Linked DNA regions of Homo sapiens: all the other regions are linked to region 3. The links come from fine-mapping of genetic effects on gene expression. A gene starts in region 3. Each other region holds a variant in brackets. All regions are shown on one strand. Distances are between the middles of the regions.

Region 1 (5,820 bases), 320 kb before region 3:
GCAGACAGAGTCACTCTGTCGCCCAGGGTGGAGTGCAGTGACACAATCCTGGCTCACTGCAACCTCTGCTTCCCAGGTTTAAGCGATTTTCCTGCCTCAGCCTCCCAAGTAGCTGGGATTACAGGCACCCACCACCACACTCGGCTAGTTTTTATATTTTTAGTAGAGATGGGGTTTTACCATGTTGGCCAGGCTGGTCTGGAACTCCTGACCTCAAGTGATCTACCTGCCTTGGCCTCCCAAAGTACTAGGATTACTGGGATTTTGGAGGCCTTGGCCTTCCAATGTACTGGGTGTGAGCTACCGTGCCTGGCCAATATTTAATATTTAATCACTGACCAGTTAAATTACTTAACTCACCACCTCCTCTATGACTATAACTGAAGTTCTAGGAAGATGGGTCATGTTTATCTTTCTTGTGACTCCAAGTACCCCGAAATCATACCACCTGATTCCCTAAGGGTATTCATATCCCAGTTTGAGAAACAGGGATCTAAGCAATTAAGCTAGTCATAACACTTGAAAGTGATTAACGTGTTCCTATAAACCCATTCCCTAAACTCTTAAAGGTTCGATTTCTCAATAGTTTTTAAATCAGCAACTTTTGGTATGCACTCTGTGTCAACACTCCTAAAAGAACCTGCAGGGCGTAAGTTATTTTTGGAGTGACAGAATACTACCACAGACCTTCTCCTTCCCATCTAGCAGGATAACAAGTTGCCCATTTGGAAAATAAAGGTTTGAAGAATAACAGAACTTTCATTCCTATTCCCTTCTCTTTATTTGCTCCAGGCAGAGCTTGTAAGAAAAATCTTAGTAGTCATTTAGATGATTCATTCACATAAGCTTATCTAATCCTGGCATTTGTAATTTCCACTTCTACATTCCTTTTTGCCATTACACATGTACGATTAAATTATTTTCACATTTTTCTAGGGTCTGAAAAAAATGTGCTTTCCGGTACCGTGAGAAGAGATAATTTTTACAACCAGAATCCCACTTTGTTGTTTATGAGATCCCAAAGCATAGTAGATTCCAATATTTATAGAAGGTCTGTTCCAAGTTCCATATAATGTCCATTATATTTTATAGCAAAAATTACAGGCTAAATTAAAATGATAATCACTGTCACACTCTGACGCAAAATGGGCAATGAGCTAGGCTAACTCAAATTAAGACAATTTTTATCCAGGATACCAGGTTCCCCAAGAACAGGATTCCATCTGTTTCTTATCAAAATTACAAGTAGCCACAGGTCATGGACTTTCTTTTCAGTTCATTTGCCAATAGTCAAAATACACATTCCAAGGGTTTCTACAGAAAAGCAGCCACAATTTCCTGGGATCTTTCTATGTACATGTTCAGAATAGTACTTAAAGCTTTACAAAACACATTCTCATTAACGGAGAATAGTCTCTGAGATTGGTGGTGTTATTCTCTCACAAGTGAGGACTACAGGAGTAGACAGGTTAAAGTAACTTGCCCCATATTACCCAGCTAGTATATCATCGTAAAGAGTTTCAAACCCAGGACTCTGATTATGAAGCCTGTATGCTCTCAATCACCTGATATCCTGCATCCCCTATATTCAAGAATTAGCCAACAAATCCTCCAACTCCAGGAGGGTTATATTACTACCATTTTTAAGATAGAAAAAATGGAAATAGCACTTACCTCTCCGTGGCTGCAAAGTCAGTTTGAGGAGGGAAAATAGAACCCAGCTCTCAAGCCCCTGGTCAGCAATCTGTCCACTAGCGCATCTTGTTCTTTGGCTTCAGGTCCGTAATCATTCTAAAAGAAAAGCACAAATCATTTTATGAAACACTAAATTCATACAAATACGCATATAGTATGAAAAAAAATGAGGGAAAACTGAAGACAGAAAAAATTGGGAAAGAAACAAAACACCTGTTCATGTCATGTCACTAACCGAGCCATTCCATAAATGTCCACCATCAAGCCAATAACAAAACATTCATTTATTTTTTCACACATTTGCTAAATATATAAAGGACTAAAGGTTTCTAAGTAGCAAAATAGTACTCCAGGCTCACACCAGTAATCTTAACGCTTTCGGAAGCCAGGGTGGGAGACTCACCCAGGAGTTTGAGGCTGTACTGAGCTGAGATTGTGCCACTGCATTCCAGCCTGCTTGACAGAGTGAGAGATCTTGTCTCAAAAAAAAAAAAAAAAAAAAAGGCCAGGCGCGGTGGCTCATGCCTGTAATCCCAGCACTTTGGGAGGCCAAGGCGGGCAGATCACGAGGTCAGGAGATCGAGACCAGCCTGGCTAACATGGTGAAACCCCGTCTGTACTAAAAATACAAAAAATTAGCCGGGTGTGGTGGCAGGCGCCTGTAGTACCAGCTACTTGGGAGGCTGAGAATGGTGCAAACCTGGGAGGCAGAGCATGCAGTGAGCCGAGATCGCACCACGGCACTCCAGCCTGGGCGACAGAGCGAGACTCCGTCTCAAAAAAAAAAACAAAA[C/G]AAAACACTCCACTGCAATATTGCAACCAAATAATGGCACACATATTCAAACTACCAAAAAATTAATTATTGGCTGGGCGCAGTGGCTTACGCCTGTAATCCCAGCACTTTGGGAGGCCGAGGCAGACAGATCACGAGGTCAGCAGATCAAGACCATCCTGGCTAACACGTGAGACCCCGTCTCTACTAAAAATACAAAGAAAAAAATTAGCCGGGTGTGGTGGCGGGTGCCTGTAGTCCCAGCTACTCAGGAGACTGAGGCAGGAGAATGGCATGAACCCGGGAGGCGGAGCTTGCAGTGAGCCGAGATCCTGCCACTGCATTCCAGCCTGGGCAACACAGCGAGACTCCGTCTCAAAAAAAAAAAAAAAAAATTAATTCTTATGGCTGCAGTAATGGCTCTCTAACAGTTTATTTCCGTATCTTTAGCAAGTAGTGGTCTTACTGATTAAGTTTGTTCATGCCACAAGTAAAGGCTATGCTTTCCAGTTTAGTAAGATAACTGGGGAAGCCAAGGCAGGTGGATCACCTGAGGTCAGGAGTTTGAGAACAGCCTGACCAACATGGCGAAACCCCATCTCTACTAAAAATACAAAAATTAGCCAGGCGTGGTGGCACACGCCTGTAATCCCAGCTATTCAGGAGGCTGAGGCAGGAGAATCGCCTGAACCCAGGAGCCGGAGGTTGGAATGAGCCGAGATCGCGCCACTGCACTCCAGCCTGGGCGACAGAGCTAGACTCCGTCTCATTAAAAAAAAAAAAAGATAACTGGCAAAAGGAGCTTTTACTGACCTTTGAAAATCCTAGAAGCATAGCAATGAAACAGTTTTTTTAGTCGAATAACGGAATACTTTGTTAGATGGCATCTTTTCACCCTAAATTACAAAATGAACTGTCAAGCTTCAAGCAAAGGTAGAGTGGAACCTACCTCTAAAGAAAAAGAAAGAAAGAAAGAAAGAAAATCCCAGGCCAGGCACAATGGCTCACACCTGTAATCCCAGCACTTTGGGAGGCCAAAGCGGGCGGATCACGAGGTCAAGAGATTGAGACCATCCTGGCCAACATAGTGAAACCCCGTCTCTACTAAAAATACAAAAATTAGCTGGGCATGGTGGTGCAGGCCTGTAAACCCAGCTACTCAGGAGGCTGAGGCAGGAGAATCGTTTGAACCCAGGAGGCGGAGCTGCAATGAGCCAAGATCGTGCCACTGCACTCCAGCCTGGCGACAGAGTGAGACTCTGTCTCAAAAAAAGAATAAAATAAAATCCCAAATGAAATAAAGAGCTAAATTTGAACTAAGTGTTTCCAAATAGGCCAGGCACAGTGGTTCACGCCTGTAATCCCAGCACTTTGGGAAGCCAAGGCAGGCGGATCACAAGGTCAGGAGTTCAAGACCAGCCTGACCAACATAGTGGAACCTTGTCTCTACTAAAAAAAATACAAAAATTAACCAGGCGTAGTGGTGTGTGCCAGTTATCCCAGCTATTCAGGAGGCTGGGGCAGGAGAATCGCTTGAACCCAGGAAGCAGAGGTTTCAGTGAGCCAAGATCACACCACTGCACTCCAGCCTGGGCAACAGAGCAAGACTCAGTCTCAAAAAAAAAAAGAGTTTCCAAATAATATAGCCAGGTGTGATGGCTCACACCAGCAATCCAGCACTTTGAGAGGCCACAGCAGAGGACTGCTCGAGCCTAGGAGTTCAAAGCCAGTCAGGGCAACATGGCAAAACCCCGTCTCTACAAAATACATAAAAATTAGCCAGGCAGGCCGGGCACAGTGGCTAACGCCTGTAATCCCAGCACTTTAGGAGGCCCAGGCGGGTGGATCATGAGGTTAGAGTTCGAGACCACCCTGGCCAACGTGGTGAAACCCAGTCTCTACTAAAAATACAAAAACTAGCTGGGCATGGTGGTATGCACCTGTAATCCCAGCTTCTCAGGAGGCTGAGGCAGGAGAACTGGTTGAACCCGGGAGACGGAGGTTGCAGTGGGCCACCATCGCACCACTGCACTCCAGCCTGGGTGACAGAGGAAGACTTCGTCTCAGGGAAGAAGAACAACAACAAAAAAAAGGCCAGGCATGGTGGCTCACGTCTGTAGTCCCAGCACTTTGGGAGGTCGAGGTGGGTGGATAACCTGAGGTCATGAGTTCCAGACCAGCCTGGCCAACATGGTGAAACCCCGTCTCTACTAAAAATACAAAAATTAGCTCGGCACGGTGGCAGGCACCTGTAATCCCAACTACTCCCGAGGCTGAAGCAGGAGAATCACTTGAACCTGGGAGGCCGGGGTTGCAGTGAGCCCAGAACATGCCACTGCACTCCAGCCTGGGAGACAGAGTGAACTCCATCTTAAAAAATATATATATATACACGTATACATATATATGCCAGGCATGGTGTTGTGTGCCTGTGGTCCCAGCTACTTGGAAGGCTGAGGTGGGAGGATCGCTTGGGGCAGGTGGGGGACAAGGCTGCAGTGAGCCATGATCACACCACTGCACTGCAGTGTGGGCAACACAGTGACAACCTGTCTCAAAAAAAAAAAAAAAAAAAAAAAAAGCCGAGTATGGTGGCTCACACCTGTAACGTCAACACTTTGGGAGGCCGAGGTGGGAGACTTGCTTGAGCCCAGGAGTTCAAGACCAGCCTGAGCAACATAGTAGGATCCTGTCTCTACAAAAAAATAAAAGAATCAGCTGGGCATGGTGGCACACGCCTATAGTACCAGCTACTTGGGAGGCTGCAGCAGGAAGACTGCTTGAGCCCAGGAGTTCAAGGCTGCAGTGAGCTATGATCATGCCACTGCACTCCTATCTGGGCAACAGCTATGATCATGCCACTGCCTCAATCAAAATGTATTAAAAAAAAAAAGTTTCCAAGCAATTTGGCACATGAGGTACATCTTCTAAGAGGAAATCCATCTCACAATTAGCTAAACTCCACAAAACTCACTAATACTTAGATGAAGCTAAAGTCTCCTCTGTTGAGAGGCAATTTTTAGTAACACAAATAGGTGATTAGCATATTTAGTCCAACCAACACTTCCATACTGGAGTCCATTATTATTACCAGCATACCTCAAAGGGAATGAAATTTTCTACCCCTGAAAATTCCAAGAGTGACCAAAAACAAGGATCAAGTGTGAAAGAATACCATCCTAACCCTCACCTTTGGACTGTATTTTGGCAGTCTATATGCAATGCCACAACTTTGCATTCAAATATTAAATCACTGAGAAAATGCACAAAGATACTAGCAGGAAAGATACGAAGACAGACTACAGAAAGTTTACAGGTGTTTAAAAAAAATGGGCTGGACACGGTGGCTCACA
Region 2 (5,790 bases), 75 kb after region 3:
GGCAGGAGGGTCAGGTCCTTGTCCCACTAGGGGGCTAGGTTTGGGATCTCCAGGGTGCAGCCTGGACTCCTAAGGGCAGATTAGGGCTGAGGACTGGATGATGCTCGTGGTGGGCTTGGGCCTGCCCAGGTCCCTGGGACTCAGAGGTACCCACCCTAAGTTCCTGGGCAAACAGCCAGAATCGTGGAGAGAGCCCAGGTCCCGTCCGACCCTCCGGAGTTTATTCACTTCCAGCGGTACTGGGCTGGACCGAGCCTTGGTGGCATCCGATTCAGCTCCAGCAGCATCCCAGGTCCTATCCAGCATGGGCGGGGCACCGCCTGTCAGAGCTCTGGCCTTCAGGAATCTAGAGATGACGGGAACAGTGGTCAAAGAGGTGGGGTCCGGCATCCGCTTCCCAGGCCATGCCCTCCCGCCAAGCCGGCTCAGGGTTTGGGCGGACTCACACCTTCGGACTCGTCCCTTTCCTCGAAGTCGGGCTCGGGCTCTGGGTCCGGTTCTGGCTCCAGTTCCGGCTCTGGTTCTGCTTCAGCCTCGGGTTCCAGCTCTGGCTCTGGCTCCGGCTCCGGTTCAGCCTCTTTAGAGGCCTCAGCTTCCAGCTCTGGCTCTGGCTCCTCCGGGGTCCCGGATTGCACCGCCTCGGAGCCCTCAGGGCCCCCGGCCTCGTCAGGGTCTGAAGCTCTGGGCAACCCGGGGCATGTGGTCCCCGAGCCGGGTGCCTCCGGCGTCCAGTGGCCTGGGCATGGAGGGTCATAGCTGCGGTCCCGGTAGCCTGGGGCGGAAGTGGGAGTGACTGAGGCTCAATTTACCCCTGTGCGGTTTCACACTCGCCTACTTCTAGCGGAGACGACAACCCTGCCCTCCCCGGGCCTTTTGTCTGCCCCAGCCCCGTCCCTGCTCTGCCCTAGGCCCCGCCCCGCGCGCTCACCCGGACCCACGTGCTGCCAGTCCCAAGCGGGGTCCGGCGCGCCCGCGGTACGCTGGGCACAGCGTAGCAGCTCCTGGCAGGCGGCCTCGCCCTTGCCCTGCACCAGCAGCAGTAGGCGGCGCACCCTGCGCTCGGCATCAGGCAGTGCATCCAATGCCTCGTACTCTGGCCCGGTGAGCACGCCCCGCGCCAGCAGCGCGTCCAACAGCAGTCCCGAGTCCGCCTGCAGCGTCTCGACCAGGCGTTTCCGCTCGCGGTCGATAGTCTCTGACGGCCGCTCCTGCGCGTTGCCCATTGTCGGGGCTGCATGGGGAAAGGGGAGAGAAGTAATGGGGGGTTGCCCTCCCCGCTGCCCTCGCCGCCTCTGACCACTCCCTCAATGCCCCCAGTGAACACCCAGGCTGGGGTTTAAGTTCACCTCGATCCCAGCCGCCGGACGGCTCCGCAAGCACAGGACCTGGAGGCCAACACGGGGAACTCGGTGTCCTCCTGCCTCTCCAGACGCTCTGTCCTGTCTCCTCCTCAGGCTCCTCCTTCTGTCCCCAAGCGTCAGCCGTGGCTCTCCTCTCCTCCCCTGCCTTTCCCAGGACTGGCATCTACTCTCTGAATGCCCTCCCCAACCAGGACGTCCTGAGCTCCACCCCCGGCAAATCCGAGGCGAGTTCAGACCCCGTTTATCCAAACTAAGGTCTTTCTCTCAAATCTGCTTCCCCACCTAACCAGGCAGAAAAACCTAGGATTGATGCTGATACTCCACACCCAGCTTGCAGACAAGTCCTTTCCAGTCTGACTGCTGAATATTTCTCTCACCATCCTCACCACTTACTAAGTCCAGCCTTCTGCCTCCTGCTTTGGCCCTGCAGAACCCAGGATCAGAGCTCCCTGCTTCCATACTCTATCCTCCAGTCCCCTCTGAACCCAGAGCACAAAGTGCTGAGAGCCTCCCTGCCCCTCTCCCCTTACCTTGACCCTGATATCCAACTTTCCAGGACAAGCCCCGCCTCTACACCCTCCCACCAACACCACCACCATAGTGCAACCCCAATGTAGTCTCCTGGCCCTTCCTGGTCCCCTGATTCCTGAGCAGAGATACCAGAATCTTCTTCAGGCCTAGCTCTGACCAAGATCTCTTGACATCACCTGAGACCCACCTGTCTCCCTACTGAAGCCCTAACTCCTAATGTGACTGTCTCTCTGCTGACCCACCTGGCTCCCTGCTGACCTGGGAATTACCTACAGACATTTGTTGTTTGATCTTGAAGTACCCAAGGCCTAGCTCATACAGGATACCGACAAATACTTGCCGAACTTGGACTGATTTTCCTCCATGGATCGCACTATTTTGAGAGACTTTTTTTTTTTTTTTTTTGAGATGGAGTCTCGCTGTTGCCCAAGCTGGAGTGCAGTGGCGCAATCTTGGCTCACTGCAACCTCCGCCTCCCAGGCTCAAGTGATTCTCGTGCCCAGCCTTTTTTTTTTTTTTTTTTTTTAGAGGTGGGGTCTTGCTATATATATTTTTTGTATTTATTTATTTTAGTGGAGACGGGGTTTCACTATGTTGGCCAGGCTGGTCTTGAACTCCTGACCTCGTGATCCACCTGCCTTGGCCTCCCAAAGTGCTGGGATTACAGGCGTGAGCCACCGCGCCTGTCCTGGTCTTGCTATATTGATCAGGCTGGTCTCGAACTGCTGGCCTCAAGCAATCCTCCCATCTCAGCCTTCCAAAGTGCTGGGATTACCAGCACTTTGTGAACCACCATGTGAACCACCATGCCTGGCTCTTGAGAGACTATCTCTACCAACAGCGGCTATTAGGGAGAGTCAATCTGCTTTATCCATTTTTTTTTTTTTTTTTTGACAGAGTCTCACTCTGTTGCCCAGGCTGGAGTGCAGTGGCACATTCTCTCATCACTGCAACCTCTGCCTCCTGAGTTCAAGCGATTCTTCTGCCTCAGCCTCCCGAGTAGCTGAGATTACAGGTGCCCGCACCAC[G/A]CTCAGCTAATTTTTTGTGTTTTTAGTTGAGACGGGGTTTCACTATGTTGGCTAGGCTGGTCTCGAACTCCTGACCTCGTGATCCACCCACCTTGGCCTCCCAAAGTGTTGGGATTACAGGCATGAGCCACCGCACCCAGCTGCTTTGTCCATTTATTGTCAACCAAGGATTATGGCCCATTCCTGTGAGTGGCCTGACCCAGCCAGCAAGACCCCCGGCATTAGGAGGCAAAGACATCAGGCCTTGAACCATGCCCTCAGCCCACCCCCACCCTGATAATAACTTCTTCTCCTCCCCGCCTTGGCTTTGTTCACACGGCATCCTCCCATCTCTTCTTCCCTTTGCTGTCCCTCCTCTGCCTCCTTCTCTGGCTCTAGGAGGCTCGGCCTTCTCTGGGAGAGAGGATTTAGTCCTAGCCGCCATCCTGCCTCCCAGGTCTTTCTCAGTACCCTCTGGTGTCACACTATACCTCCCCCGTCACTTCACACCCTGGCTTCCTCCCATTGAAGCCCTTCCCCACCAGGCCGAGACCAGGACTACCCCCTGCCCCTCCATCTCCCTTTATGTCCCGTATGTGATGAATCTTGCTTCTCCACTTCTCAGTGAGTCTCCATCAGCTCCTGCCTTGCCACCCCACCATCGTCACCTCATGTCCTGTAACAGTCCCTCTGAGCCCCTCTCACTCCCATTCTGCCAGGCCCGATAGCACAGTGACTTTGACAACCCTCTGGGCTAGGATTGCTGTTCCCATTTTACAGATGAGGAGACAGGCTCAGAGATTCAGTGGTAAAACTGGAATCTTACTTGCTCCAGCCTGAACTATGAGGAACTGAACTATATTTTCCTGTCTAGCAGAATTCCATCCTAAATACCTATCTACCTCCCCCCCACACCCCACTGCCCATCAGAGACAACCCAAAATATCTGGTCTGGCTACTCTAGCCTCCTCCCACCACCCTGGACAGCCAGGCCCTTCCCAGCTTCCCTCCACCAGCCAGGGATCGGAGAACTCACTATGCCTCTGGCACCTCGGAGCCTTTGCTGATGCTGATCGCTAAGACTGGAATCCTTTTCTCCTCCCTCCGCTCCGTGGACCTATCCATCGTCCAGGACTCAAATGTTCCCTTGTCTACACCAATGCCTAAGTGTCCCAAGGGCTGGTGGTTCCTTCTTCTGTGTACCGTGAACAACACATGCCCTCACTAGTGCATTAACTGACATCATTGCACTGTGTACACGCAGACTCTCCGCTTTCTTCAACTGAGTTTTCCAGAGTGTCCCTCCAATCGGTGGGCAAAGGAAGGGAGAGGGGGACAGCACCTACTCGGGACAGACACAGGGAGGGTGCAGATTGGATTGGCCCCTCCTTCTCTCCAACCTAAGTTGTTTTCATGTTAGCCGCCTCCTCCTATGACCCCAAGTCCTGCCCTTTATCCTGTCTGGGGGTAGAGACTCCAGCTGGTCTGGGCCCTCCCTTTGAGGCTCACACAGCTCTCAATACCGAAGTTATTTAGCGGCCAGTCCTTCGAGGGTGACAGGTCCGATTCTTCCCAGAGAGCCAGGTGGCGGGGCACGGAGCTGGGTCCCAGCCCCCAACCCCACCTCGCTGCGCGGGCTCTTTGGCCAGGAAGCCAGGGTCTTGGGACAGTGAAGAGCCTTTGCGCATGTGCGACTGCACGGATTTTCCCCCCCCGCCCCTTACCTCCCTCCACCCAGTCCCAGAGCTTGAGAGTCCTGCGGCAGGGCGGGGCCCACAGTCCTACCCACCCCGCCCCCCCGACCCCCGAGCGCCGCAGCGGGTGGTGGGGCGCTGATTCTGCCCAATCTCGGTTTCCCTTCCCTCCCACAGCCGGGAGTGGGGCTCCCGGTCTGGCCCGTTTTGGGCGTCCCCACTCACGGGTCAAGCCTCGGCGGGGCAGGAGATGACGGTGCAGAAAGGGCCGGGCAGGGTGGGGGTGGGTGCAGCAGCTGCGGCGGGGGCGGGGCGGCCAGGGCTGCTGGGAATAGGGAGGGTGAGGGTTCTTCCCCGGGCACTAGGAGCCACACCGCGGAGGCCGCGCGCTGGCTGGGGACGTGCATGTAGTCAGCTTTCCCTCCCCACCCGGGGCGCACCAGGAGATGAGGCCAGGAGGGGGCAGTTCGGCCCGCGGCCCCACACGTCCAGCGCCCACTCAGGGCCTGCCAATTTCCAGGTGCTTTCCATCTATCTTGTCATCGACCCCTCTTCTCTGCCTGTCACAGAGGAAGTTCAGAGAAGGATACCAACTCACCAGGATCACAGAACGCATGCATTGCAGAGCTGAGCGCGACCCAGAAGCCCCCGCTTCCCAGAGATTGCAGCGGCCCCGCGCCAGCCCTGGACCCGGGCCTAAGCAAGGGAGCTAGGCACCGGATCCCCAAGCACCTCCACCCTCCTGGGGTTCCTCTATTAAAAACCTAGTATCTGGACGCTTCTACAAATGCAAAATCACCCCCCACCCATAACTCCTGTGCTCCCTGGTCGATAGAGAAAAGAGACCAGAAACAGAAAAAAAAAAAACGGAGTTTATGTGCAGGGATAGTCGGGGTAGTGGAGAGAGGCCATTTAGTAGTGGGGGCTTCGCTCACCCCCGATAGGGGGCGCCAGGAAGCCAAGAAGGATGTGCAGCGGCGGACTGGTTCCAAGCCCCTTCAGAGGCGCGGGGTCTTAGGGGGAGGGACTGGCTTCCGGGCCCAAGTAGGAGGCAGTCCGGCTCTCAGGAGTGCTATAAATGGTTAAAGCCCCAGGCAGGCCCAGGGCTGGGCCTCCCAAGGCCGCCTGGACATCCAGCAGGAGTGGGGCCCCGAGCGTGGGGTCCTTCCCTAGGAGAAGTGGGACTGCGCTCACCAG
Region 3 (5,820 bases):
AGGGGCAAATTCTAGGCTCTGGGTGATTCCTCCATGAAGGCTGTATTGGTGAGACTGGAGTACAGGCTGTGCCAGCATCCATGGGGAGAGAGTAGCAACGCTCAGCTATAATTAGTCACCCCCACAGCAGAGCCAGCACAACAGGGAGAAGGAGGAGGGTCTCTGGTGGGAGGAGGGACCACTGGCTGCTCAGAAGGGAGGAGGAAGGAGCAGATGCAAGGAAAAGCAGCTCTATTCAGGGAAAAAGAAGTCTGAAGCACAGCCTTCAATGCTGTCAGGACTGAAGAGGTCGGATGTATGAAAGCATCTAGGGTAGACAGCACACAGGAAGGCCCCGATACACGGAAGTTTCTTATACCCTGAAGTGAGAAGAATGTGGACCTGAACGTGGGTTGGGGGGGTACCCATACACAGGCACAAGAAGGCAGCAGCTTTAAGTGGGGAGCAGGGGAGAGCTGGAGGAAAAGTGGCAGTGTAGTTTCCCAAGGGAATGGACACTCGGACATGGTCTCCAGGGAAGGCTGCTTTTTCAGAACCAGGATGCCTGTGTTCTTGGGAGAACACCCTCCCCTCAATGTCCCCACACATCCTCACCAGCGACAGAGGTTTCTGGGAGGCTAGGGATTGGTGGGGGAGAGACCAGACTGAAGAGGGCCTACTGCAAGGGGAAGAGGGGAGCGGAGAGGGCAAAGGAGCCTACAGATGGAGTTGGGGAGAGCGGGGGACAGCCCTTCAGAAAGGCAAATCCTCAGAGCTCCCAGGGGAGAAGACAGGGACCTGGGACCCACAAGAAGCGATGCAGGAACTGGGCGAGAGCCCGGATTTGTGGAATCCAAACCTAAGTCCCAGCACCGTGCAAGAAGCCAGCCCCAATCTGAGGACCGAGGAGGTGGGGGTGTTGGGGGCGGGTCCGCCGCTGGCGGTCGGCCTGGCGCACGCACACACGCACTCACCGATTTTGGCCAGACTGGCCACCAGGATCCACAGGGCCACCAGGTAGGGCGCCTCCACCTCGTGCCACTGCCAGCGGAAGAGCTCTAAGCCTGGGGGAGGCTCGCCCGGGGACTCTGGCTTCTGGGTGGGCTCTTCGGCCGCCCCCGCCAGGGGCAGCGCGAGCAGGGACAGGGCGGCGCGCAGCATCCTGCCGCCTGCCCAGCCGCCCTCCCGGCACCGCACGGCCGCCGGCCCCGCGTCGCCGCCGCCACCTACCGGGCGCCCCCGCGTCACAGGCACGTGGGGCCCGCTCCCCCCAATCCCGGCTCCGATACCCCCAAGCCAGGTCCAGGCTCCGAGACCCTGCCTCGGACTCTCGTAGTCGGGGACTCTCTCCTCTTTCCTCCCTAAATCAGTCCCAGCTCCGGAAATTCCCCAGTGCAGCTCTCCCCCAAGTTCCACAACCTACTCCTTCGAGTCCGCGCCCCCAAACCTCCCCAAAACCGCCCCCACCAGATCCAGAGCGGTGCGCGGCCACGGCCCCCCTGGGGCAGCCCGCAGCGGGAAGGGCGGGGGTCTGCGGGGGGCGCGGTCAGGACGGGAGGGGCACGGCTCCTCCTCGGCCAGCGCTGCTGTGCGGCGAGCAGCACCCCCCTGGGACCAAGGCGCGGCCGGGTGCAAAACGCAGGGGACCGTGCTTGGCCGCCCTCCGCCCACGTTGCCAAGCCCAGGACCCCCTGCCGGCCCCCACCCGGACCTGAGCTGCGCACGCGCACTGGACGCTCCCCAAAGCAGTGACGGACAACGCTGCCCCCAACGTCCCAGAAACCCTAAGGCCCAGACTGGCCCAGCTCGTGCCAGGCGAAGAGGGAGGCTGTTCTTCATCTCCCAAACCAAGGGGCACCTGGCCCTCCCTTTCAGTCACACTACAGAGAACTGTCTCATCTCTTTGATGAAGCTGACAGGAACCTATGGAAAACCCAGCCTACTGATTCCCTTCAAACTAGGCGAGATGCACCCAACTTTTTCCAAATCTGAGGGGCATTCGGCTCATAGCGCCCCAAACAGAGGAGGACCGTCTCCACTTTTCATTCAGGCTGAGGGGCACCCATCCCACTTTTTCTCCAAAACTGAGGGGAACGTGTTCTATCTGCCCCCTCAAACTGACTCCTCCCAATCTTTTCCCAGAAAACTGAAGGGCATCCTTCCCTCTTCCTCCCACAACTAAAGGGAACTGATCCCACCTCTTCCTTCAAACTGGGTGGAATTTATTCTCACTTCTTGCTCCAAATTGAAGGGACCCCCTCTCACTGCTTTCCCTAAATGAGGAAACCACAGGGACTCACCCCTCAAATGGAAGGAATGAGGGCTATCTTGTCCCTCAACTGAGAGAGACCTGGCCGGCCACTATCTAAAGAAACTTCTGCCCCATCTGCCCTAACACCCCTCAAAGAGAACGCAGCCTCACTATCCCCAGACCAAAGAAAGCCTCCCCGCCTTCTGCGCGTTCTCGAAGGTGGGGCGCGAGCTCGGTTTTTCCCGCCCTCCTAGCCAGTGAACTAACGGGATTCCCATTGGGCCCTGTGAGTGGCTAGCGGCGGCCCCGCCTCCGGCAGTGGTTACCTCCTGGCGCGCACTCGGGGACTAATCTTGGCTCCACCCCCTTCCTCGGCCCCGCCTCCGTCTGGCCCCGCCCCTCCAGCCGCGTCCGGTCCGGCCGGGCCCGAACCGCGGAGCTACAGTGTGCTTTGAGTAGAAGCTGCACTGGGGCCGGGACTCGGAGGCGCGCTGCGTGAGCCGGCCGCAGAGCCATGGCGGGCGGGGAAGACCGCGGGGACGGAGAGCCGGTATCAGTGGTGACCGTGAGGGTGCAGTACCTGGAAGACACCGACCCCTTCGCATGTGCCAACTTTCCGGAGCCGCGCCGGGCCCCCACCTGCAGCCTGGACGGGGCGCTGCCCTTGGGCGCGCAGATACCCGCGGTGCACCGCCTGCTGGGAGCGCCGCTCAAGGTGAGGGAGGCCGGAGAAAGGTTGGGGCGATCGGGGGTTCAGGGTGGGCGCCATGAAAACTGGTGGGAGGTGCTCCGCGGGAAGAGGCTGGAGCGAGTGTTCTTCTCCGGAAAAGTCTTGGGCTGGGGTCCCAGGGTCCACTCTGCCCCGCCTGCGGGGGAGTCCCCTCTCAAGTTGAGGGGAAACTGAAGAGGGGTGCCAGGAACTTGGCTCCGCCATTCTGACTGCCCTTCGAATTAGGCGCACCTGGGGAGGTGCTCGAGTTCCACTCGCCGTCGGTCTGCCAGGGTGGCTTCCCTGGTCAGAGTGACGGTAGCCGCTTGGGCTGTAGCGGACCCTGGAGGCGGAGCTGGGGAGGGACCAGCTTCCACCTGCTTCAGGTGAGGTGGGGGCGGGACCACGAGGAGGGGCGGGCCCGAGGCGGACTACTAGAGGTGGCAGAGGTTTCCTGCGGTGTCAGGAAGCTGGATTGGGGCTTGACCCTGTAGGTCAATGGGAGTATGGGAGTGCCGGCCGAGGAGAGACTTCACGGGGTGAGGGGAGTCCCCGCGAAGCGGTCTGGCCCGGGATCCGCAGAGCGCAGGAGGCTGCACGGGTGTAAAAGCCCTTTGAGTCACCGCTCCCGCCCCCACCCCCGGACACTCGCCGCCCATCGGCCCGCGCCTGAAAGTGAGAGGGAGGGCCGGACTAATTTTAAACAGCCGGCCTGCCCTACTTTGCTGCCGCCCCGAAGCGGACTTGTGCACAGTGCGGAAAGAGGCCCTTTTCCAGATGGCCAGCCTACCTCCTCTCCCCTCCCTCTCGCCGCCGTCAGCCCCCCGCAGGCAGCCCTTTCCGGCGCGCTGTTTCCGGGCCAGGACTCTGGGAGGCGCACTACCACCTCCACAAGCTCCCCACCAGCCCGGCCGCCTCCAGTGCTGGAGAAGAGGAGAGAGAGTCGGGGTGGGTGCCCTCCCCTGCTCCCAGCCTCAGCTGGGCGGCGAGTTGCGTAAACTTGCCCCTTGGGCCTGGGGTCTTCCCTGGAATGTGCCCCGGGCCCCCAGCCCGCATTCCTCGCGCTGCGGCCAGCCCCGCCTCTGAGCGCTGGCGGGAGGGGTGGTGAGACTATTGGCCTGGAGAGTGGCACGTGTCCAGGCCAGAACCCCGGCTTCAAGGCCATGGCTGGAAGGATGCAGGACACTGCTCACCGCCAGTTTTGACTCAGCCCCCGCTTCTCTTGCCCTATTCAGAGGGGCAAATTGAGGTGTGCCTGGAAGAAGCGTGTGCAGCTGGAGGCCACCTCCCATTCAGGATGGGGGCTGGGAAGACAGGAGTGCTGAACTAAGACTGGTTCCCGCTTCCAGGCTCCTAAAGTCCGGATCCTGAAATAAGGGTGGGGCACTAGAGAATATATTGTATTCCTCTCATCCTGCAACTCAAGGATTGGACCTAGCCCTGACACCACCCCCCCGATTTTTTTTTTTTTAAGACGGATTCTGGCTCTGTCTCCCAGGCTGGAGTACAGTGGGGCTATCTTGGCTCACTGCAACCTCCACCTCCCGGGTTCTAGCAATTCTCGTGCCTCAGCCTTCCAAATAGCTGGGATTACAGGTGTGCGCCACCATACTCAGGTAATTTTTGTATTTTTAGTAGGGACAGGGTTTCTCCGTGTTGGCCAGCCTGGTCTCAAACTCCTGACCTCAGGTGATCTGCCTGCCTAAGCCTCCCAAAGTGCTGGGATTAAGGCTTGAGCCACCATGCCCAGCCCCTTGACACACCTCTTCCCAGCTGGGGGCAAGCCTGGGAAGTCAGCTGCAAGAAAGAGGCTCAGAACCACTCCTTCTATCTCCCTCTCATGGGACCCGTGTCCCCACCCAACCCTACCAGGTGCTCTGCCCTGTGTTCCCTGCTCCTTAGCTGAGGACACTACTGAGCTCCGGTGAAGAATATAAGTTCCTCATCCCCAATGCAGTCCTTCCTGGTCTCCCCGATTTCATGTTCTCCCACCTGGAGTACCTGAGGACTGCCTTCCCTCCCCCACAGGGATATGGAGGTGGCACACTAGGTTACCACAATGCCAGAAGCCAGGATTCCCTGGGGCTAGCAACTCTGCCAGGAATGGTCAGATGCACTGTGATGTGCTCAACCCAAATATAAACTATGACCACAGCCCCAGAATAGAAGGCTGGAGGAAGAGGGGCTGAGAATAGGGCAGAGACAGGGACATCAGAGAGCTGAGCAAGGGGGAGCAGGGCCCCTCCTTGCAGGAAATGTCAACAGCTGGTTCCTCCCGTAGTCCTATAAGTGGGTGCCCCAGAGTCACAGACATGACTCAGGCCTGTCTTGCTGGCCCTCTAGAGGGAAGAGGTGGCCCAGAAACCAGGGCATCCCTGTCCCAAGCTGTAGGGCAGAAATAAGAGGAAGGGGTTCTTTACTCATTGCTTCGTCCTATGTACAGTTGTCCAGCAGAGGACAGGACACAGCCAAGTGGCCTCTGTCCTCCTCTGGGTACTGGCCCCGGGTACTGGCCCTGATCATCCCAGCAGATGACCCCCCTCCCTGGGGATGTACAGAGGCCAGCCTGCTTTCTCCCTGGGACTCCACCCACACACCCCATTGGGCCGAGCCTAGCCCCTAGAGTTCCCCTGGGGGCTTCCTTTTTAAAGAGCTTTCAGATCTCAGAAAGCCTTGCTCATTTCCTCCTAGACTAGGAGGAAGCTCCTGGCCACAGCCTCTGACTCATCTCCTGGCCCTGGTTGGTGGAAGGGAGCTTGACAGTGTCTTGGGCCGGGCCTAGTGTCCCTGGGGGAACTCAGGAGTGCCTTCCTCCCCTCCAAAATATTCCCCCAGCCCAGACCTGCCTTTGCCAGAGGGGAGAATGTGTCCCTCTGGCCTT
Region 4 (5,820 bases), 290 kb before region 3:
GCCCCAGCCTCCGGGCTGCTTGGAGGCCTGAGGGAAAAATGGGGTCCACCACCCCACAGGCACACATCACCACCTGGTCACCAGCGTTTATTTTTATTAAGCTTCCCCCATGCCAGAAAGGAAGAAGATGATGCACCGACAGCAGACAGTGGGGTAAGTTCATGGAGGATTTCCAGAAGGAGGAAGGGGCTGGGACCAGCAGGTGGTAGTAGGGATCTCTGGAGTCAGTCTGCGCCATGCTACCTCCAGCTGGGACCACTGGGGATGGCATGGGTAGGAGTAGGCTGCAGGCGGGATGGTTTATGACAAGTGGACTGCAAAGGGTGCAGGGCATGGGGCTGTAGCCTGGGCAGCAGCAGAGGAAGGAGGGACCTGGCACAACTCTCAACTGGGAACCAGCAAAGGCCACTCCAGGACTGACAGTTGAGGGGCCAGGGCCTCTGGGAGAGTCGGGGTTGAGAAGGAGTGGGGCAGTGCTGGGGTCCCAGGGTGCACGGCGAGACACTGAGAGAGCTCCTTAAAGGGCAGGTCCAAGGTGAGGCCAAGGGGAAGAGGAGGGGCTGGAGGCACCCAAGCTGATGGGGACCGGCAGGGGAGGCAGACATTGCAGAGATGAAGAGGGCGGTCAGAAGCACTGGGGACACACGTAGGGTTGGAGACATGGGCATGAAGGACATGGGAGGGGTGGACACAGGTGCACCTGCCAGCAACTCAGTCCTCACATGCTCCACCTGGCCCTGCCTCACCTGTCCTGTCCTTTGACTTTCTCCCAATTCACCTGTTCCACCTTCCCCTGGTCCTGCCTCACCTTTTCCCTCTCACCTAGCCTCACACCCATCTTGCCTAGCCCCCTCACCTGTCCCCAGGAACATCATTGTCTTCATCTTCGTCTTCATTGAGGAAGCTGAAGCTCTCCAAGGCATGCTCCACAGTGATGCTGAGACTGGAGGCCCGGCTGCGAGTCAGACCTTGTCTCTGCTGAGGTTGTGAAGGGCATCAGAGCGGCTGCCGCCCCCTGGCTGCCCTCCCTGGTTGCCCTAGCCCAGCCCAGCCCTCCTCACCATGAGCAGACTTTCTAGGCGGGTCACCTCCTGCTCCAGGCCCTGCAGCTCAGGAAACTGGCCACGGTAGTCATCCAGGGCAGCCATTAGGGCCCCCAGTGCCTCCTCCAGGCTCCTGTCCCCAGACCCTCCGGCTGCCGTTGGGACTGGGGTCTGGACAGCCATGGCCAGGCAAAGGTCTGAATGCTGGGGTGCAGGGGTTGGGGGTGAGGGAGTGGGGCTTAGACTCTGAACCGTAGACTCTGAGGGATCTGGGGCAGGGCTTGTGAGGGGTTTCCTACTGGAATGGGCAGGACTTGGGTGGGGAGTTCTGGGGGCCATAGGGTCTGCCTGAGTGTAGGAATTGGAGACTGGGGGACTACAGGGAAGGGAGTCAGTGCCTGGGAGGGTGGGGTCTGAGTGTTTGGAGGGGCTGGAGAGGGTAGCAAGTTCTAGAGAAGTGGAAGGGCTTACATTTATAAGGATGGGGCTTGTGGTGGGATGGGTGGGGCTTGTGGTAGGATGGGTGGGACTTGTGGCAGTCTGGACTAGGCCCATACCACTGGGGGTAGGACTTGTAGTGGTGGGAGGTGACATACTGGTTTTGTGGGTGGGACTTGTGGGGGTATGGGTGGGGCTTGTGGAAGTATGAGTGGGGCTTGCTGTGGTATGGGTAGGGCTTGGCATAGTGTGGGTGGGGCTTGTGGTAGTCTGGACTGGGCCTATGATATTGAGGGTAGGGCCTGTAGTAGTAAGGGTAGAGATTATGGGCTTGTGGGTGGAGCCTGTAGTAGTGTGAGTGAGGGGGCTTGGAGCACTGTGGGTAGTGGTAATGGCACTATAGGTAGAGCCTGTAGTGGTGTGAGTGGGGCCTGGCAGTTCTGAAGGGCCAGAGTCTGTGGACTTATGAACTGAGTCTAGGTGTGCAGATGGGGCAGGGTCTGTAGATGTGGGGACAGAGCCTGTTGTACCGAGGGTAGAGCTTGTGGCAGAGTGGCCAGGGTCCAGGGCAGGAGGAACAGGACTGGGGTGCTCTCCATGGGTGGGAGCTGGGTGTGTAGGTGGGCTAGGTCCCCAGGCTAGGCTTTCTGGGCCAACGGCCTCCACTGAAGCCTCAGCCAAGGCAGCATCTACACTAGCCTCACTGATGTGGCTCAGAGTCCGACTGTAGGGTGCATGCCCATTTGCCAGGACTGGGGCCACGGCCCCCTCCTCATCCAAGGGCCCAGAGCTGGGGGTCTCAGGCCTGCGGAAGGCAACTTGGATGGGAAGGGGCTCGGGCTGCTGCACCAGGGGCCTAGGGGCTGGTGAGTGGCGGGCAGTGCCTGAGAGCTGTGGGCTGGATGAGTCGTCTGAAGATTCAGATGACAGGGACCATGCTGTCCCATTCTCCAGCTCCTCCTGCCGTCGCAGCATGTTCTGAGAAAGAGGAGAGGGCATTTCAGAACCACCCCCAGGGAGCCTCTGGGGGATGGTGAGGCCTGGACCTGGGCTATGACTCACATAGAAAGCCTGTTCCCGAAGTGAGGGTGTGTCCGGTGGGCTCTGGCTATAGGTGGAGAAGCGCTTGGTGACTGTGGAGGCCTTGTTGACAGAAGAAGCAGCTGAGGGCTGGTCATCCTTGTCGAAGGGGCTGGGAAGGGAAGAGGCTGTTGGCAGGTGCCACAGCCCTCCTGGCCCTCCTCCAAGCCTCTCAGCCCCACCAACCTCCATGTGACTTCCAGGCTGAGCTTGATGGTACCAAGGTCATTGATATCCACAGCCACAACCTGGGGCAGGGCGGCAAACAGGTCCTTGGTCTCACAGGAGACACTGCCCACAACCACATGGTTGGCCAGGCCCTTCAGTTCTGTCACCTGTAGCCAAGAGTGCATGGTAGGGTCACAAGGGTGCAGGGGCTATGAGATCATGGGAAATCTGAGGTCTGAATTTGCATAGAACTTATAAAATGGTCATGGGAGGCTGAGG[C/T]AGGAGGATCACTTAAGGCCAGGAGTTCAAGACCAGCTTGGGCAACATGGCAAGACTCTGTCTCAAAAAAAAAAAAAAAAAAAATTTTTAGCCAGGCATGGTGGTGCACCTGTAGTCCCAGCTACTTGGGAGGCTGAAGTGGGAGGATGGGTTGAGCCCAGGAGTTTGAGACTGCAGTGAGGTATGATTGCACTGCTGCACTCCAACCTGGGTGACAGAGTGAGACCCGCCAACTCCTAGATAGATAGACAGACACATGCATGCTCATGGAGCCATGGATGCTTGAAGCAGCCTGGGAGCATGGGAATCACAGAGGTCTGCATGGTAGGGTCACTGAGGTCATAGAGGTCACAGCCTCATGGGAGCTTAGGAGGTCAAATATTCACAGGGTCAGAAGATCATGAGGAGGTCACAGGGTCAGGAAGCCATGATGTCCTAAGAGTCACAAAGATTGTTCCTCTCAGGGCCACAGAGATCATGAAGGTCATGGAATCATATCTTCACAGGGCTATGGAGCTATGAGGGGATCACAGGAGTAAGGGACTCAGGGTAATGGGGGTCACAAGGGGTTCACAGGGCCATGGTGGCCTGCCGTCCTGGGCAGAGACATCACCTTAATAGACAGAAATTCCGTGAGTAGAGGGAGAAAGATGGTTTCTTCACTGTCCCACACCTGCTTTCCACTACCCTCAATTCGGCCCCGTAGTTTCCAGCGCTGACGCCCATATTTCATGCAGATCTGGGGGAACAGGTAGGATGAGGCAGCCTAGGTGTTGGGACCCTACCGACCCAGCCCTTCCCTGCACATTCTCATACCTCATACTGATCGCCTACACACAGCCTGGCGAAGCCAGCCAGCCCTGAGTTGGAGGAGAAGGGGAGAAGTCGGTGAGCCATATTGGGGTTCTTCAGCATACTCCCTCCAGCCCCCCACCTGCCCCCACAACTCAGTACCTTTCATTCGGAGATGAAACTCGCCCAGCTGTGCCTCCAGCTCGCTCTCCAGCAGACACATGCTCTGGGAGGGAGGGGCAGGGACAGGAGGGGGTCAAGGGCCAGCCACTAGCCCTGCCACACCCTGTGCCTCTGCCTCATGGGCCCCCATCCCTCACCTCCGTGTACTCGCGATGCCCCCGAGTGGCCTCTGCCAGGCTGTCCCGGGCCTCTCGGCTTCCCGGGGACCCAGTGGTGTAGGCACGGACCATGTTGTAGGCACCATCCCGGAGACGCCGCTGGACACAGTATGCCTCATACAGCTCATCGATCTGGGAAGGTGAGTGGGGTGACAGTAGGGGGACTGAGACTCACCTCTGGGGTTACTCACCTCTAAGGTTGCTCACCCAGGGCCTGGCACCACCCCTCTTCTCCCTATGATATCCAACCCCCCACCCCACTCTGCACACATGCTGCACTCGTACCTTGCTGGCATGGAACTCCAGTCGTCGCAGGAAGCGTTCAATGGACTTGACTTGCTGGGGGAGAGGTGGGTCAGGAGGGGCCTGAGGCCCAGGGTCCTTACCCTCCCTGTGAGCCAACCCCTTCCAGTACCATTCCATGCATACTCACCTTGTCCAGATCATACAGGAAGCCCTGCAGGGGTGGGGAGAAGGGGCAAATATTTAGGAGGGATGAGGAGGACTCCAGCAGAGGCACTCAGACTCGTCACAGCTCCCCTTTCTCACACCACAGTCCACAAGCACTCCTGTCACAGTAGCAACTGACGCCCCTTCCTGCTGGTCTAGCCCTTGGTGGATGCTGGTAGCACAGATCTGGTCCCTTCAGCCCCCTCCAGGACCCCTCCTTCCACCTCTTCCCTGGGATTCCTTTTCCTGCAGCCGCCTGGGGAGAGCTCTCTGCTTCCTTGTGCAAGGTTCCCTCTGCAGGGGAACTCCCATCAAGCCCCGGCAGAAGTGTTCCCTCCTCCAGGAAGCCCTAACCTCTTCCCAAGAAGCACCATGCAGCAGTACCACTGCTCAGTACCACTGCAGCAGAATCTCCTGCTGTCCATGTCTGTAGGGGTCCCACCTACCCCACTGGAAGCTCCTGGAGCAGGTACTGAGTCCCAAGCAGAAAGTATGCACAGCAAAGTTTGGGGATAGAAAAGCCCCTCAGCCTTTCCTGATATCCCCTTTTCTACTCACACCTGAACCAGATCACTTCAGAAAATAGCCCAGATATCACCCAGGGCTGCCCTTGCCCAGCCCTCCACACCAAAGAGGCAAAGGGCATCCGTACCTCCCGCCACTCACCAAGCGGGAATTCCTCTTGGACTCCCTTATCTGCCCCTGGAGTTTCTCTTGCTCCTGCTGGTGCACTTCCAAGTAGGCCCTGAGGAAAGGGGCGACCACAAGAATGAACTCGGCTCTCCAGCCTCATGCTGCCCAGGGTGCAGACAGCAGGGAGAGGGCATGGGGCTGGAGAAGGTTCCTGCTAGCAGGATGCGGGCTTGGGGAGGGATCCCGGGACAGGGCTGGGAACAGAGGAGCTGCTCACGTCAGGCCCCGCTTCAGCGCCGTGTACACCAGGTCCAGCCGCTCGGGCTGCGGCACCTTGGCGGCTGGGTGAGCCACGGAAAACATCCTGGACACTCGGGAGAGCGCGGGGGGCTTCCGTGGGGGCCCCGGCGGGCTGAAGACCGGGAAACTCCTGAAGGAGAGGCTGTCCTCAGAAAGAGGAGAGCAGGAGTCCCCCAGACTCTCACTACGCACCCCCAGACCCAGCCCCATCTGACGCCCTTTGACCCCACCAACCCTGCGCGGCCGCGTACCTGGGCCCCCGCTCGTGGCTGCCGAGGACGCCTGCGAAGGACTGG
Region 5 (5,820 bases), 360 kb before region 3:
GACAGAGGAGAGGGTAGTAAGACAGGTGAAAGATGTGCTGGTTGCCCCCCATAGTTTGGATGGTCTTGAATAACAAAATACCTCAGATGACTGGCAATGGAAAACCACTTATGCTTTCTGGGCAGAGAAGTAAAGATTCACTCATTTCACAAAGAAGAAGACTTAATTTCCTCAAAAAGTGTGTCTCTACTTTTGCAAAAACTACATGATGCACTTACCACCCTTCTGGCTCACAAAGCCCCTTCGTACCTGACCCCATGATAACCTATTCAGATTTATGTCTTGCCCTCTAGCACTCTCCCCTTCAGTCAAGCTGTCTTTTCATCCAGACACAGTTCCTACTGTCATCTCCCTGTCTTCACTCTGTACTTTACGTCTGATCCACTCCTCTCAACACCAGCTCATCCCTGGCACAACAAAGCTTTCTGAGGTTCTTGTGGCCACTACTTTGCTCCAAATGTGTTTCTGATAAAATAAGGACACAGTTTAGCACTTAAAATTTTCTCAAAACGATCTATTTTCCCAGTTGGGTGTGAAAGCTCTTTAAGGGCAAAAGCCGGGCTTGAAGCAACATATACTTTTGGACAGATTCAGCAAACCCCACCATCTGCCTGGAAAAAAACAAGGCTCAAGGTAAACTCCCGAGGTTGTTGGATTGCCAGTTTGGTTTATTCTTCCATTACCTTCTTTCTTTCATTAGTCCCTTGTTCTCAACAACCAAGAGAAAAATACAACAACATCCAATGCAAAGGCTTCTTACTATGCTGTTCCATGACAGTGGGGACAAATATAAAAAAATGTTACCGCAGAAGGTGGGGATCAAAGAACATTTGTAGAATGCTTTATAATTCACCTATAAATTAAAAATGAGCAAAGTGCTAGTATTTTTATTATAAGATGTCATTTAGGCCAAGCGTGGTGGCTCACGCCTGTAATCCCAGCACTTTGGGAGGCGAAGGCGGGTGGATCATGAGGTCAGGAGACCGAGACCATCCTGGCTAACACGGTGAAACACCATCTCTACTAAAAAATACAAAAAATTAGCCAGGAGTGGTGGCGGGTGCCTGTAGTCCCAGCTACTCGGGAGGCTGAGGCAGGAGAATGGCGTGAACCCGGAAGGCGAAGCTTGCCATGAGCCGAGATTGCGCCACTGCACTCCAGCCTGGGAGACAGAGCGAGACTGTCTCAAAAAAAAAAAAAAAAAAAAAAAAAAAATCCCATTTATACCTCTGATTGTAAAAGACTAAGCATAATCCTAACTATAATTAATTTTATATACTCAGTACTGTTCAGACAGATTATCTTTAGAATATAAATTCTCTAGGCTGGCACTGTTCAATAGAAATATAATGCAAGCCACAAACATAAGCCACATTATATGTAATTTTAAGTAAAAAAAATTCATATTAAAAAGTAAAAAAAAAAAACAAAAAACAAAAAAAAAAAAAACCCTGGTGAAATTAATTTTAGTAATCTATTTTACTTAACCTGGTATGTCCAAAATATCATTTCAAGGTTTCATCAATTTAAAAAATTGTTGGCCGGGTATGGTGGCTCATGTCTGTAATCCCAACACTTTGGGAGGCCAAGGCAGGTGGATCATGAGGTCAGGAGATACAGACCATCCTGGCTAACATGGCGAAATCCTGTCTCTACTAAAAATACAAAAATTAGCCGGGCGTGGTGGCGGATGCCTATAGTCCCAGCTACTTGGGAGGCTGAGGCAGGAGAATGGTGTGAACCTGGGAGGTGGAGCTTGCAATGAGCCAAGATCGCGCCACTGCACTCCAGCCTGGCAACAGAGCGAGACTCTGTCTCAAAAACAAACAAACAAAACAAAAACAAAACTAACAAAAAAAATTGTTATGCTTGAGACACAGACTTGCTCTGTTGCCCAGACTGGAGTGCAGTGGTAGGATCACAGCTCACTGTAACCTCCAACTCCTGGGCTCCAGTGATCCTCCTGCCTCAGTCTGCCAAGTAGCTAGGACTACAGTTTATGCCACCATGCTCAATTAATTTTCTTTTCTTTTCTTTTTTTTTTTTTTTTTGAGACGGGGTTTCCTCTGTTGCCCAGGCTGGAGTGCAGCAGAATGGTCATGGCTCATTGCAGCCTTGACTTCCTGGGCTCAGGTGATTCTCCCACCTCAGCCTCCCGAGTAGCTGGGACTACAGGTTCATACCAGGCACCAGGCTAATTTTTTTGTATTTTTAGTAAAAGTGGGGTTTCACCATGTTGCACAGACTGGTCTCGAACTCCTGGGCTCAAGTCATCTGCCCGCCTCAGCCTCCCAAATTGCTAGGATTACAGGCATAAACCACCGTGCCTGGCCTCTAATTTTTTTTTTTTTTTTTGAGACAGAGTCTTGCACTGTTGCCCAGGCTGAAGTGCAGTGGCGCGATCTCAGCTCACTGCAAGCTCCACCTACTGGGTTAACGCCATTCTCCTGCCTCAGCCTCCCAAGTAGCTGGGACTACAGGCTCCTGTCACCACGCCCGGCTAATTTTTTGTACTTTTAGTAGAGACGGGGTTTCACCGTGTTAGCCAGGATGGTCTCTTATCTCCTGACCTCCTGATCCGCCCGCCTTGGCCTCCCAAAGTACCAGGATTACAGGTGTGAGCCACCACACCCAGCCTTTTTTTTTTGAGAGGGAGTCTCCCT[CTG/G]TCGCCCAGGCTGGAGTGCAGGGACTTGATCTCGGCTCACTGCAAGCTCCGCCTCCCGGGTTCATGCCATTCTCCCACCTCAGCCTCCTGAGTAGCTGGGACTACAGGCACCCACCAGCACTCCCAGCTAATTTTGTTTTTGTATTTTTAGTAGGGACGGGGTTTCACCATGTTAGGCAGGATGGTCTCGATCTCCTGACCTCGTGATCCCCCACCTCAGCCTCCCAAAGTGCTGGGATTACAGGTGTGAGCCACTGCGCCCGGCCTAATGTTTTCTTTTTTTGTAATTTTTTTTTTGTAGAGGTGTGTTGCCCAGGCTGGTCTTGAACTCCCAGCCTCAAGTTATTGTCCCATCTTAGACTACCAAAGTGCTGTGATTACAGGTATGTGCCGTCGTGCCCAGCTATATCTTACATTTACAGCATACCTTAATTTGAACCAGTGAAACTCTAAATTCTCAACAGCAACATGAGGCTAGGGGCTTCCGTACCGGACAGCACAACTTTGTACTTGTTATTCAAAGTATGGTCTGAGGACCAGCAGCACTGGCTTCTTAAAAACACAGAACTTCAGGTCCCACCCTTGACCCACAGAATTAGATTTTGCAATTTAACTTTATACTATTACTGTTTCCCCATTAAGATTTTCTTCTCTTTTTTTTTTTTTTTTTTTGGAGATGGAGTTTCACTCTTGTTGCCTAGGCTGGAGTGCAATGGCGCAATCTCGGCTGAACACAACCTCCGACTCCTGGGTTCAAGCGATTCTCCTGCCTCAGCCTCCCGAGTAGCTGGGATTACAGGCATGCGCCACCACACCTGGCTAATTTTATATTTTTAGGAGAGACAGGGTTTCTCCATGTTGGTCAGGCTGGTCTTGAACTCCTGACCTCAGGTAATCTGCCGGCCTCGGCCTCCCAAAGTGCTGGGATTAAAGACATGAACCACCGTGCCCAGCCCCCAGAAAAAAACTTTTTAAGAGAAGTTTTTCAGTCCCTGAAAAGCCCCAAAAGTTAGTATCCCTGCAAAGGGAATGATAATCCAGATGTCTGGAGCTAGGGAACATACAAAAAGCCCAATTTACTTCAGAGTGACATTCTCAGAAAAGGTATCAAAGAACAAAAAATTGAGATGCTGTGAATGTAAATGTGGTGACCCTGCCAGAGTCACTACATAATCCCAGACTATTTAAATATCCTCAATAATAAAATTGGTAGAGGAAAAACAATCTTTGGGGTCTCCAGGATTTTGTAGCATATAATTTGATGCTACAACTTGAAGACAACGGAAAAAAATTCTATCTGGTCTCTGGTGTGAATTTGAAAACTTAAAATGTTAAAAATTGCTTGTAAACAGGCTGGGCTGAGTGGCTCACGCCTGTAATCCCAGCACTTTGGGAGGCCGAGGCAGGCGGATCACCTGAGGTCAGGAGTTCACGACCAGCCTGACCTACATGGTGAAACCCCATCTCTACTAAAAATACGAAAATTAGCCAGTTGTGGTGGCAGGTGCCTATAGTCCCAGCTATTTGGGAGGCTGAGGCAGGAGAATCGCGTGAACCCTGGAGGCGGAGGCTGCAGTGAGCCAAGATTGGGCCACTGCACTCCAGCCTGGGTGACAGAGGGAGACTCCATCTCAAAAAAAAAAAAAAAAATTGCTTGTAAACAACCGAGTCCAACCTAAAAGAGGTCACAGAATTATAAACCAGGTAGAAAAAGAAGTGGTACAAAAGAGTACAAATAGAAACCAACTGTGCTTCCAAGAAGTTGAGCTGACAGAGTACTGTCTCACTGAAAAAAAACACATGGCATAAAGTCCACAAAACAACAGCATCTACTCGGTCTTAAAGCAATAGCTTCTATTTTTAATAGAGAAAAATCAGACACAAAGTAGCAAGCCATCAGCCTCTCAATACACTGCTCAGAATCTCAGAGCATCCCCGAGGTCAGGAGATCGAGACCATCCTGGCTAACATGGTGAAACCCCATCTCGACTAGAAATACAAAAACAAAATTAGCTGGGCGTGGTGGCAGGCGCCTGTAGTCCCAGCTACTGGGAAGGCTGAGGTGGGAGAATGGCATGAACCCGAGAGGTGGAGCTTGCAGTGAGCCGAGATCACGCCACTGCACTCCAGGCTGGGTGACAGAGTGAGACTCCGTCTTAAAAAAAAACAAAACAAAACACACACACACACACACACACACACACACACACACACACACACGGTGACAGAGTGAGACTCTGTCTTAAAAAACAAAACAAAACACACACACACACACACACACACACACACACACACACCCCTTAGTGCATTCCATCAAGCAGTGGATCTCTCCTTTTACTTTCTTTCCAGACGATGGGAGTCTCTCCTCTGAATCAATAAGTAACCAATAGGCTGGACCAGGTCATTCTCCCCACTCCCTGGGGACTGCGCTTCTAGCTGCCTCTCCCGACACTAGCAGCTCCAATCCATCTCCTTTCTTTACTGCTTTCAAATACTCAGTTCCTCTTAGTACAAAACATACCCACTCACTCTAATTCCTACATATTTTTTGGCTCTATGCTTGCTTGAGTCGCCCATGCCTTCTAGGTTTCATCAAATATTTTTTGTGGACCAATATCGCCACCAAAATGAAGTTTATATCACTCAAAGCGGTTTTAATTTACTTACAGGACACATTTTTTTTCCTCCAGATTACGAAAATCACCTAATATTCTGATGCTGTTTTCTCAGCTATTCAGTTAAAGGTATATATTTTGTATATATATGAAATCATACTATATATGGAATTTATATACACTTCTATATATGGCTTTGCTCTATCTCAAAAAATCTGTCCTTATGACTAGGTGTGATGGCTCAAGCCTGTAATCCCAGCACTTTGGGAGGCTGAAGTAGATCACTTGAGCCCAAGAGTTCAAGCCCAGCACAGGCAACATGGGGAGACCCCATCTCTAAAAACAAATTTTAAAAAACACACATTAGCCAGGCTAGGCATGGTGGCTCACACCTGTAATCCCAGGACTTTGGGAGGCTGAGGTGGGCAGATCCCTTGAGTCCAGGAGTTCGAGACCAGCTTGGGCAACATGGTGAAACACCATCTCTACAAAATATAGCCAGGCATGGTGGTGCATGCCTGTAACCCCAGCTACTTGGGA

Which allele goes with the higher level. Positions count from the first base shown, and alleles are read on the strand shown. Sizes are in standard deviations (SD) of each study's normalised expression. Not every link is listed here.
With allele A in place of G in region 2, the expression in lymphoblastoid cells of the gene that starts at base 2,674 in region 3 is lower (large effect, 1.0 SD a copy in TwinsUK).

What was found. PIP is the estimated chance that this variant, and not a neighbour inherited with it, causes the effect.
Region 1: its variant is fine-mapped to the expression of FHOD1 in whole blood (TOPMed, PIP above 0.99).
Region 2: its variant is fine-mapped to the expression of FHOD1 in lymphoblastoid cells (TwinsUK, PIP 0.95).
Region 4: its variant is fine-mapped to the expression of FHOD1 in tibial nerve (GTEx, PIP 0.96). The same link has a PIP of 0.9 or more in whole blood.
Region 5: its variant is fine-mapped to the expression of FHOD1 in whole blood (TOPMed, PIP above 0.99).

Annotation. Positions count from the first base shown.
Region 1 is chr16:67,567,119-67,572,938 of GRCh38, reverse strand. CTCF (CCCTC-binding factor) reads right to left here. Exons shown (of 12, transcript NM_006565.4): 2 at 1,675-1,791. Among named protein-coding and RNA genes, the nearest start is that of CTCF, 7.5 kb to the right of the region's middle. The variant C/G (reference allele first, on the strand shown) is at 2,489.
Region 2 is chr16:67,169,603-67,175,392 of GRCh38, reverse strand. It overlaps NOL3 (nucleolar protein 3), which reads right to left and starts at 4,855. Exons shown (of 4, transcript NM_001276309.3): 1 at 4,819-4,855; 2 at 929-1,231; 3 at 449-772; 4 at 1-346. The coding sequence starts at 1,223. The coding sequence ends at 339. HSF4 (heat shock transcription factor 4) reads right to left here. Exons shown (of 13, transcript NM_001374675.1): 13 at 5,452-5,762. The coding sequence ends at 5,608. RefSeq lists silencers at 809-1,068, 2,805-2,968, 4,609-4,898 and enhancers at 966-1,888, 5,109-5,258, 5,749-5,790. The variant G/A (reference allele first, on the strand shown) is at 2,921.
Region 3 is chr16:67,244,335-67,250,154 of GRCh38, reverse strand. FHOD1 (formin homology 2 domain containing 1) reads left to right here and starts at 2,674. Exons shown (of 22, transcript NM_013241.3): 1 at 2,674-2,945. The coding sequence starts at 2,745. SLC9A5 (solute carrier family 9 member A5) reads right to left here and starts at 1,176. Exons shown (of 16, transcript NM_004594.3): 1 at 954-1,176. The coding sequence starts at 1,140. RefSeq lists enhancers at 438-937, 938-1,439, 3,840-4,499, 5,272-5,321, 5,432-5,481 and 1 more and silencers at 1,115-1,224, 1,525-1,614, 1,635-1,724, 2,367-2,736, 3,637-3,736.
Region 4 is chr16:67,538,506-67,544,325 of GRCh38, reverse strand. RIPOR1 (RHO family interacting cell polarization regulator 1) reads right to left here. Exons shown (of 22, transcript NM_024519.4): 2 at 5,776-5,820; 3 at 5,502-5,654; 4 at 5,258-5,336; 5 at 4,575-4,598; 6 at 4,427-4,480; 7 at 4,121-4,273; 8 at 3,963-4,026; 9 at 3,825-3,868; 10 at 3,622-3,747; 11 at 2,748-2,896; 12 at 2,544-2,673; 13 at 1,062-2,459; 14 at 857-978; 15 at 1-27. Among named protein-coding and RNA genes, the nearest start is that of RIPOR1, 13 kb to the right of the region's middle. RefSeq lists a silencer at 1,525-1,574 and enhancers at 1,765-1,814, 5,803-5,820, 5,621-5,820. The variant C/T (reference allele first, on the strand shown) is at 3,009.
Region 5 is chr16:67,600,360-67,606,179 of GRCh38, reverse strand. All of the region lies in intron 2 of CTCF (CCCTC-binding factor), which reads right to left. Among named protein-coding and RNA genes, the nearest start is that of CTCF, 41 kb to the right of the region's middle. The variant CTG/G (reference allele first, on the strand shown) is at 2,664.